Linked DNA regions of Homo sapiens: region 2 is linked to region 1. Evidence: fine-mapped expression QTL. A gene starts in region 1. The other region holds a variant in brackets. All regions are shown on one strand. Distances are between the middles of the regions.

The links. PIP is the estimated chance that this variant, and not a neighbour inherited with it, causes the effect. A credible set is the group of variants that fine-mapping cannot tell apart.
Region 2: its variant is the best candidate, but not a certain one, in a credible set for the expression of BMS1 in whole blood (TOPMed, PIP 0.65).

Annotation. Positions count from the first base shown.
Region 1 is chr10:42,780,336-42,784,723 of GRCh38, reverse strand. It overlaps BMS1 (BMS1 ribosome biogenesis factor), which reads right to left and starts at 1,929. Exons shown (of 23, transcript NM_014753.4): 1 at 1,894-1,929; 2 at 154-362. The coding sequence starts at 329. RefSeq lists an enhancer at 1,749-2,098.
Region 2 is chr10:42,838,125-42,842,512 of GRCh38, reverse strand. No RefSeq gene overlaps it. Among named protein-coding and RNA genes, the nearest start is that of LINC02623, 31 kb to the left of the region's middle. The variant T/G (reference allele first, on the strand shown) is at 1,874.

The DNA of each region.
Region 1 (4,388 bases):
AGCTTCTCACGTTTTAGTGAAAGCCACACACCATGAATCTCCATGTCCTTTGGAGCTGGACTAGACTCGTGAATCCAAATGTCACCTGTGAGAGGCTCCTACTATTTAAAAAAAGAATCAATGGAAGAATGACCAGACCGTAGCCTAACATACCTGTGAAAGGATCGAGCCATCCGCACAGCAGACTGAACTGCAAAAGCTTTGGGATTTCTCTTCCGGGCATCTTCTTCGTCTCCTAGCTGGAGATCCTGCAGAAGCCGCTTCTTTTTCTTTGCAGCTTTGGGTCCACTGTTTTTCTTTCTGTGTTTCTTCTGGTCCTTAGCCTCCATAGTGGCTATTTACCAATAACAAGTAACTCTAACCTACAAGGAAGAAGGTTGGGGTAAGGAGATGGGAGAAGCATTTTACAATCCAGGCAATACCCAGGGAAAAACAGTAAATTTCATTTATTTCTTTATGAAGAGATGATGTATTTGTTCACTGAACAAGGGTAGAAACTGCTTAACCATCCCCAATTTCATTTCTCTCTGTTATGCTATAAATTAGATGAGTTACCTCTCTTAAGATTACATTTTATGGTTAAGTTACTTTTTATTCATCTTAAGTGTCAACATCAGCAGTATCTATTTCTGCAAGGATAGAAATATACTATATCTGTACTTTTCAGCCATTTAGCCATTAGCCACATGTGGTTACTTACAATATACTTAGGGAAACTGAAAAAATGAGTTTTTAATTAATTTCATTCTAACTCCAAATAGTCACATGTGGCTACCATACTGGACAGCTCAGACCCAGGTATCAACTGGACTGATGAAGTGGTTTCCTAACTTAAACTAAAACTTAAATTTTAATAAAAAAATGTGAAACGTTTTTATGAACCTCCAATATGATCGCAGTATTACTTTTAGTACCTGTTGACTCTGTAAAACTCCTAAATTACAACTTATCTACATACATTTGAAAAATAGAAATAGCTGTACGTGTGAGATAGGACTGGTTCTAGATGACACCTGGAGACCCCATGAACTTACAGAGACCCTTCCAGTGATTTCTGAGTTACCTGGGAATCTGTGGCTAATAAATTGGCAATCACTGAATTAGTGAGTTATTTTAGGAAATCGGGCTGCATAAAATCTGACAGCTTGATTAAAAAAAAAAAGCGGAGCAGGATGCCATTTCATTCAATTAAGGTACTGTATTCATTCCGTTGAATAAATATTTGTGTCTGTCTACGATGTGCTAGGCACTGTGCCAGTAAGTGGATACAGCTATTATCTGACTTGCAGAGGAAATCCAAACTATTATCTTCCGCGCCACGCAATAAGGGCGACATTGGAAGGCTGCACAGGGTGCTACTGGAGCACGGAGGTGAGTCAGAGGCTTCCCACAGACACACACCAGCGGAAACAAAGTCTTTATGTATTACCATAATGTCAAGAACACTGGCCAGGAGTTAGGAGAGCTGGGCGCTAGGAACGCTTTGAAACCGAATAGCTGTGTGATTTCAGAGATTATGTTTCTTCTCTGCTATATTTTAGTTCAGCACTTGTACTAATGTTTCTCTCCCTGTCTTTCTTCTTGGTGGGAAAAGCACAATTTGGGGTCAACAGATCCAGCTCAGGTCTAAGTCTCCTACCGGGACCACGTCGCCAGGAAACGACGTCGCCCAGCCACCTTCCCTCCCCGTCTGGGCTCTCTGCAGGGATTCATCACGTCACTCACCCAACTACCCCAGGACACCTCCGCCAGATGAGAAATATGCCGCTCCTCGGGAGCAAAGATGACCCGGAGGACCGGGGGAGGACCTTCCCACACGCACGACTCGCGATCTTCCCAGTGCCCCAGAACCAGGGACCCCACCGCCGCCTACCCCAACCCGCAGCACCGAACCTGCTCGCAGCCGCGACTCCTCAGGTCAGCATGGACACCGCCGGAAACGGAAATTCACAGTCGCGCTGACTCGCCGGAGGGAAACAAGAAGGCAGAAAAAAGAGACCGGCATGGGGACGGCTTTCAGGGGAGAGCCTGAAGAAAGAGGGCTGAACAGCTGAGTGCGGACGCAGGCGCCGTCCGCGCAGTGCGTTCCACCGGGTCCAGGTCCTTCCAGATTCCTCTCCACCCCGCCCTCGGAATCCGCGGCCTCAACTTCCGCGGTGGGACTCCGGAGCAGCGTGCGCCGCGCTCGCCTGAGTTCTCGCCGAAGGCCAGGGCGGCTCTGCGGCCTGGCGCCGGTTAGTTAGTGTGGTGCAAAAGCCGGAAGGAGACACATTTGGTCCTGGCCTCCCGGCAGTCACCGTGCCAAGGACGAATGGACTATCGCTTGATTTGGAGTACACTTCCTCCTCTTTAAAGATTACAGATGAGGGGGATCTCGCGTTCTGGGGTGCCCTAAAGCCCTCTTTTGGCAGGGCGCAGTGGCTCACGCCTGTAATCCCTACACTTTGGGAAGCCGAGGAGGGAGGATTGCTTGAGCCCAGGAATTCAAGACAAGCCTGGGCAACATAGGGAGCCTACCTCTCTCTCTTAAAAAAAAAAAAAAAAAAAATTAGCCGGCATCGTGCCGGGCGCCTGTGGTGCTTGTGGTCCCAGCTACTCTGGAGGCTGAGGTGGGAGGATCGCTTGATCCCAGGAGGCGGAGTCTGCAGTGAACTGAGATGAGCCACTGGACTTCAGCCTGGGCAACAGAGCAAGACACTGTCTCTAAGAAAAATAAATAACATAAGGCCCTCTTTTGCCAGGACCAACAAACCGTGAGGGCAGGGACAAACTGACCCAGCCTAAACTGCCTCGCCCTCCCTAAACCCGGGAAAGGGGCTTTACCTGAGTGAACGTAGCATCTTGCCGTTTTCTTACTGCACAGCTTTACCTTCCCAGGGATCCGCCCATTGCCACCTGAGGAAATGCCTTGGAGTCCATCTAATCCCCAGCCCAGCTACTTGGGAGCCTACAGAGCGTACATTGTCAGAGGATGCATCTTCCTTTAGTCTTGGAGGGTTTCTTTTCAATATGATCCCGCTGGTGCATTCAAGGCTCAATTCTACACCAAAAACTAGGCCCACTCCTGTCACGAGAACCCCAGGCGTCAGGTCTTCTCACAGGCACCTTGTTCTTGCCCTCAGCAGCCCCCAGGTATTCACTCTGCATATTCTAGATACTGGGTGCTGGACTTGGGAGGCTACCCACGTGGCACATGCTTCCCTTATCCCTGAAGAGCTTAGAGTGTTGTAACTTCTTCACACTACACCTCTTACTTCTTGAAGATTTCAGTATCCAGGTAGATAATCCTTCCAACATCCTTTTGGTCTCATGAAGCCCACTCCTGTCCTCTGCCCTACCTCAGCTTCCCCCTCCCTCCATGATCAGACCTTAGACCTTGTCAGGTCCAAGGACTGCAACCCCCACAGTATCCCACTCTGACCAGGTCTATCTATCCTCCTATCTGTCCAGGTCACTCCCTATACTGCCCTGAAACAAAACTCCTGCAACCTTACCAGCACCTCCAATCAAGATCTTACTACTTGTTCACTGTTTCTTCCTTTATGACCCTCTCTAGTGAGCCAGCTTAAACTCAATGGCCAACCATTCTCATTGATCCCTTGCACACCTCCTCAACTCATGCACCTCCCTGTCATCTCCTATCTGCTTGGTAAGATGGGAGCCCTGGATAAACCCAGCTCTCCATCTATTCCATGCCACGACGATGCAACTAAACATGGCTGGAGGAAAACAGGACCATGCCAGCCGTCCTCACTTTAATCATTCTTTGCCTGGTCTATTCAATCTCCCATTGTTCCAAGTGAGTATTTCGCACTTCCTCCTCTCTGTTCAATCCTTCCCACTGCCTCTCCCTTCCTTGCCTCCTGCTTTGCTAAGAGAATAGAAGTGGTAAAAGTCTTCCACAGACTCCCACGTCCACCTCCACCCATCCGCCTCTTATTGCCTCCCTGTGACTGTGGATGAACAACTGCTAGGTCCACCCAAAGAATCCTGCACTGGACTGCTGGATCCCATCATCTCTTACTGCTCCAGGGTGTCACTCCAGCCAGCCTATCCTCTCTGCAACATCAGCAATATTTTCCTTTCTACTGGACTCTTCTCATCGTCACATAACATGCAGCTATTTCTCTCATCTTCAAAACAAAGAAATTACTCGACCCTATTTCCTATACCAGGACCTGCACCTTTTCTATGTTCCCCTTTGCAGCAAAACTTCACAAAAGAACAGTCAATACATACTCTGGCCCCTCTCCTATTCACTTTGATTCACTTGTCTCACAGGACTCCACCTGCAGCCCTGGATGCTCTTTCTCAGCTGCTTTTGCTGGTTCCCCTGCTCTCACCTGTTTAAATTAGAGTGAGGCCATAGGTTTCGGGCTTCAGTTTTC
Region 2 (4,388 bases), 58 kb before region 1:
CTTGTCTCTCCTGTAGATTGTGTATCACAGTGAAAAGTAATCTCTCGTGGTTCTCATGTATTTTTCATGTTTAGTGCAATACCATAAATCTGAAGAAGACATCGAGACGCGTACGAAGCGCCACTAGTGATTCTGGAAGTGCTGCCAAAAAGCAGAGAAAAGTCTTGACAGTACAAGAAAAAGGTGGATTGATTGATATGTACTGTAGACTGAGGTCTGCAGCTGCGGTTGCCCACCATTTCAAGATAAATTAATCCAGTGTAAGAACCATTGTAAAAAAAGAAAAGGAAATTCACAGTGTCATCACTGCAGCCATGCTAGCAGACATGAAACTTTGCTCTTTTTGCCAAATACCTTTTTGTCTAGTCTTGAAAATGTAGCTTTTGGCTGAATGTAGTGGCTCATGCCTTTAATCCCAGCACTTTGGGAGACCGAGGCAGGAGAATCACTTGAGCCCAGGAGGTGGAGGCTGAAGTAAGCCTAAGATCACACAACTGCACTCCAGCCTGGAAGCGAGGCTCTGTAGGGGGGTGGGGGGGAAAGAAGAAGAAGAAAGAAGGAAGGAAGGAAGGACAGAGAAATAGAGAAAATGCAGCTTTTATGTGGGTGCAGGATATCTATAAGAAAAGCATATCTATAGATTCTAATATGATTCAAGAAAAACTGATATCATTATACAACAACTTAAAACGAAAGACTGGTGGAGGATGGTGACTTAAAATTATGAGATCTACAAATTTGGAGAGGCTAAAGTACAGTGGCACAATCATGACTAACTGCAGCCTCAACCTCCCAGGCTCAAGCAATCCCCCACCTCAGCCTCCCAAGTAGCTGGAACTACAGGTGTGTGCCACCATGCCTGGCTAATTTTCAAACTTGTTTTTGTAGAGACAGGGGTCCCACTATCTTGCCCAGCTGGTCTCGAACTCTTGAGCTCAAGCAATCCTCCCACCTCGACCTTCTAAAGTGCTGAGATTACAGGCATGAGCCACTGTGCCAGGCCAAGAGCCTTATTTTCTTTCTTTCTTTCTTTCTTTCTTTCTTTCTTTCTTTCTTTCTTTCTTTCTTTCTTTCTTTCTTTCTTTCTCTTTCTTTCTTTCTTCTTTCTTTCTTTCTTTCTCTCTTTTTTTTTTTTTTGTCTGACAGAGTCTAGCTCTATCATCCAGGCTGGAGTGCAGTGGTGCAATCTCAGTTCACTGCAACCTCTGCCTCGCAGGTTCAAGCAATTCTCCTGCCTCAGCCACCCGTTTAGCTGGGAAGACAGGCACATGCCACTACACCTGGCTAATTTTTGTATTTTTTTCTAGGTAGAGATGGGGTTTCACCATGTTGGCCAGGCTGGGCTCGAACTCCTGGTCTCAAGTGATCCACCCAACTCAGCCTCCCAAAGTGCTGGGATTACAGGCATGAGCCACTGGGCCAGCCCAAAAGCGTTATTTCTTAGAAAGGTTGCAGCCTGCAGCCTGGCTGTCTTGACAGGCTGGGAAGTCTAGCCTCCAGCAAAGACCAAAAGTAGGCACTTCCAGGGACAGAAAGGTGAGACAGGAAGTTATGCTGAAAGGGTTGGCTAAATGTACATATTCAACAGGTTATAGAAGGCTCTATGAATATTCATGAAGGGGGTGAGACACACCTATTTCACACATTACAGACGTCCCATGTTCATTTCAGAGTGGAGGCAACATTTAAATGCATTAAAATTGGGCCCTAAATGTCAAAAGGTGAAGCAGAAGGTTCGAAGGCTCTCAGTGCCCAGCCTTCCTACTGGAGAAAACTGTGTCCAGATTTACAATAGGGCCAATCAAGGAAATCATGAAAGAGAGTGTGCCTGTGGCAAAAAAGGTGGGGAATGTAGGCTTTCAGGATATGGATC[T/G]TGGAGAAATTCAAGAGTGAATAGACATCACACCAGAGGAATTAACAGAAGACCACTTGATGGAGATGAGTGCTTTCGAATCAGTGCCAGATGATGAAGAAGTGGATGTAGACGCAGTACCAGAAAATAAGTTGACATTCGACAATCTGGCAGAGGGGTTCCGATTATTCAAGACTGCTTGTGACTTCTTTTACCATATGGACCTTTCTATGGTACGGGCACCAAAACTAAAGCAAATGGTGGAAGGAGGATTGGTATCACAAAGAAACATATTTAGAGAAATGAAAAAGCAAAAATGTCAGACAGAAATAACGATGAATTTCTCAGCATGTGTGCGTCTCCTGCCTTCCTTCCCATCTCCCCCACCTTTTCTGCCTCTGCCATTCCTGAGATGGCAGGACCAACCTCTTCTCTTCTTCAGCCTACTCAATGTGAAGATGATATGGATGAAAACCTTTATGATGATCCACTTCCATTTAGTGATAGTGAATACATTCTCTTCCTTATGATTTTATTAGTACTTTTTCTTTTCTGTAGCTTACTTCATTGTAAGAATACAGTATACAATACAAATCACATACAAAATATGTGTTGAGTGTTTATGTTATTGGTAAGGCTTCTGGCCAACAGTAGGCTATTAACAAAAGTTGTGGTGAGTTGAAAGTTATATATGGATTTTTTTTTTTTTTTTGAGACGGAGTCTTACTCTGTCCCTCAGGCTGGAGTGCAGTGGTGAGATCTCAGCTCACTGCAACCTCCATCTCCTGGGTACAAGCAATTCTTCTGCCTCAGCCTCCTGAGTAGCTGGGATTACAGGTGCGCACCACCACGCCTGACTAATTTTTGTATTTTTAGTAGAGACGGGGTTTCACCATGTTGATCAGGCTGGTCTCAAACTCCCGAACTCATGATCTGCCCGCCTCAGCCTCCCAAAGTGCTGGGATTACAGGCGTGAGCCACCACACCCGGCCTATATGTGGATTTTTGACTGTGTGGGAAGGTCAGCACCCCATCCCCTTCATGGGAACTGTAGTCTCATTAAATCCTCACATGCTGCAAGATTGGTTTATTATCCCCATCTAAGAAACTTAAAACCCAAGAGATTTTGTACATTGCCCAGAGTCACATCACTGGTGAGTGGCAGAAACTGGAGCCCCCACCCAGACCATCCCTGACCTGAGCACAGTTTGCCAAGTGTGCCTGCAGCAGTCAGAGACACTGGGAGATGGTGACTGCCCTCCATATTGAGGACACTTATATATCTGGCTTCTGTGAAACAGCCTTGCTTAGCTCCACCGCTCAGTTTTGGTCAAATGAACCACAGCAGGATCATGTGGACTTCCTGAGCACTGGTTTGCATGTATGAGTTGGACTTGGTGATCTCTTTGAGGTATGTGGAGATACTAAGCTAGTGGAAAAAGTGCTGAACAGACTGGGACCAGTGGCTCACGCCTGTAATCCCAGCCCTTTGGGAGGCCAAGGCAGGAGGATCTCTTGAGGCCAGCCTGGGCAACAAAATGAGACCTTGTCTCTACAAAAAAAAATGAAAATTTTTTAAAATGCTGAACAAAAACCCACCTGTGTTCAACCTTGGCTCCTCCCTGGATAATGCACCCACTCCCAAGTGTAGGTGTTGGTAACTCTTGGGAGTACATCTTAAGCCCAGGTAGCACATCAACCGGAGTTCCAGACAGTTCCCCAGCTGCCGCCTCAGATGTCTCTGCCTGGCTGTCCCACAGGTGCCCATCACTCCACCTGGCATCCCAGCCAGACACCTGGGGGCCCTGGGGTACTCCCTGAAAACCCCTTGTTCCTCACAACCCCCAGACCTACTACCCCTCCAATGTTACCTCTCAGAGCTCTAGCACCCACCACTTCTCCCTCTCTGTGCCTCCTTCCCCTAAACTTCCTGCAAACTATCTCCACCCAGTAGCAAAGGGGCTTTTTGAAAAATGGAAATCTAACCACGCTGTCCCAGCTAAATGTTCTCCCAGGGCTTCCTGGTGTCTCGGGATGAAGATAGCCTCTTAAGGCGGCCTCATCCCCTGCCTCTCTATTTTCCTCTCCAGCTCCTAGGACTCTCTGCTGCTGTCCTGGCTCCAGCTACGCTGGCTTGCAGGCGTCATGCTGCCCTGTGTCACAGGCCTTTCCACATAACATTCCTGTGCTTGACACACTCTTCTGCTTCCCCAACTCCCAGCCTTTGCCAAGTTAACCAACTTCTAGTCATGGCTCAACCGTCACTTGCTTCCCTAAGGAAGCCTTCTCCAACTTCCTACACCATGTCTAGAGCTGTGCCGTCCTCTACGGGACCACTGCCACATGGGGCCATTGAGCCCTTGAAATGTGTAACTGGTGCCGAGAACTGGAAATTTTTAATTTTAATTAATTTGAATTTCAAACAAGTGACTAGGTTCAGTTACATTTGAAACAAGGGGATATACATCTATTTTTTCAACTGTGAATACTGTGAAATCTAAATATAGATTATTTCCCACAAAATTTAGATCTGAAT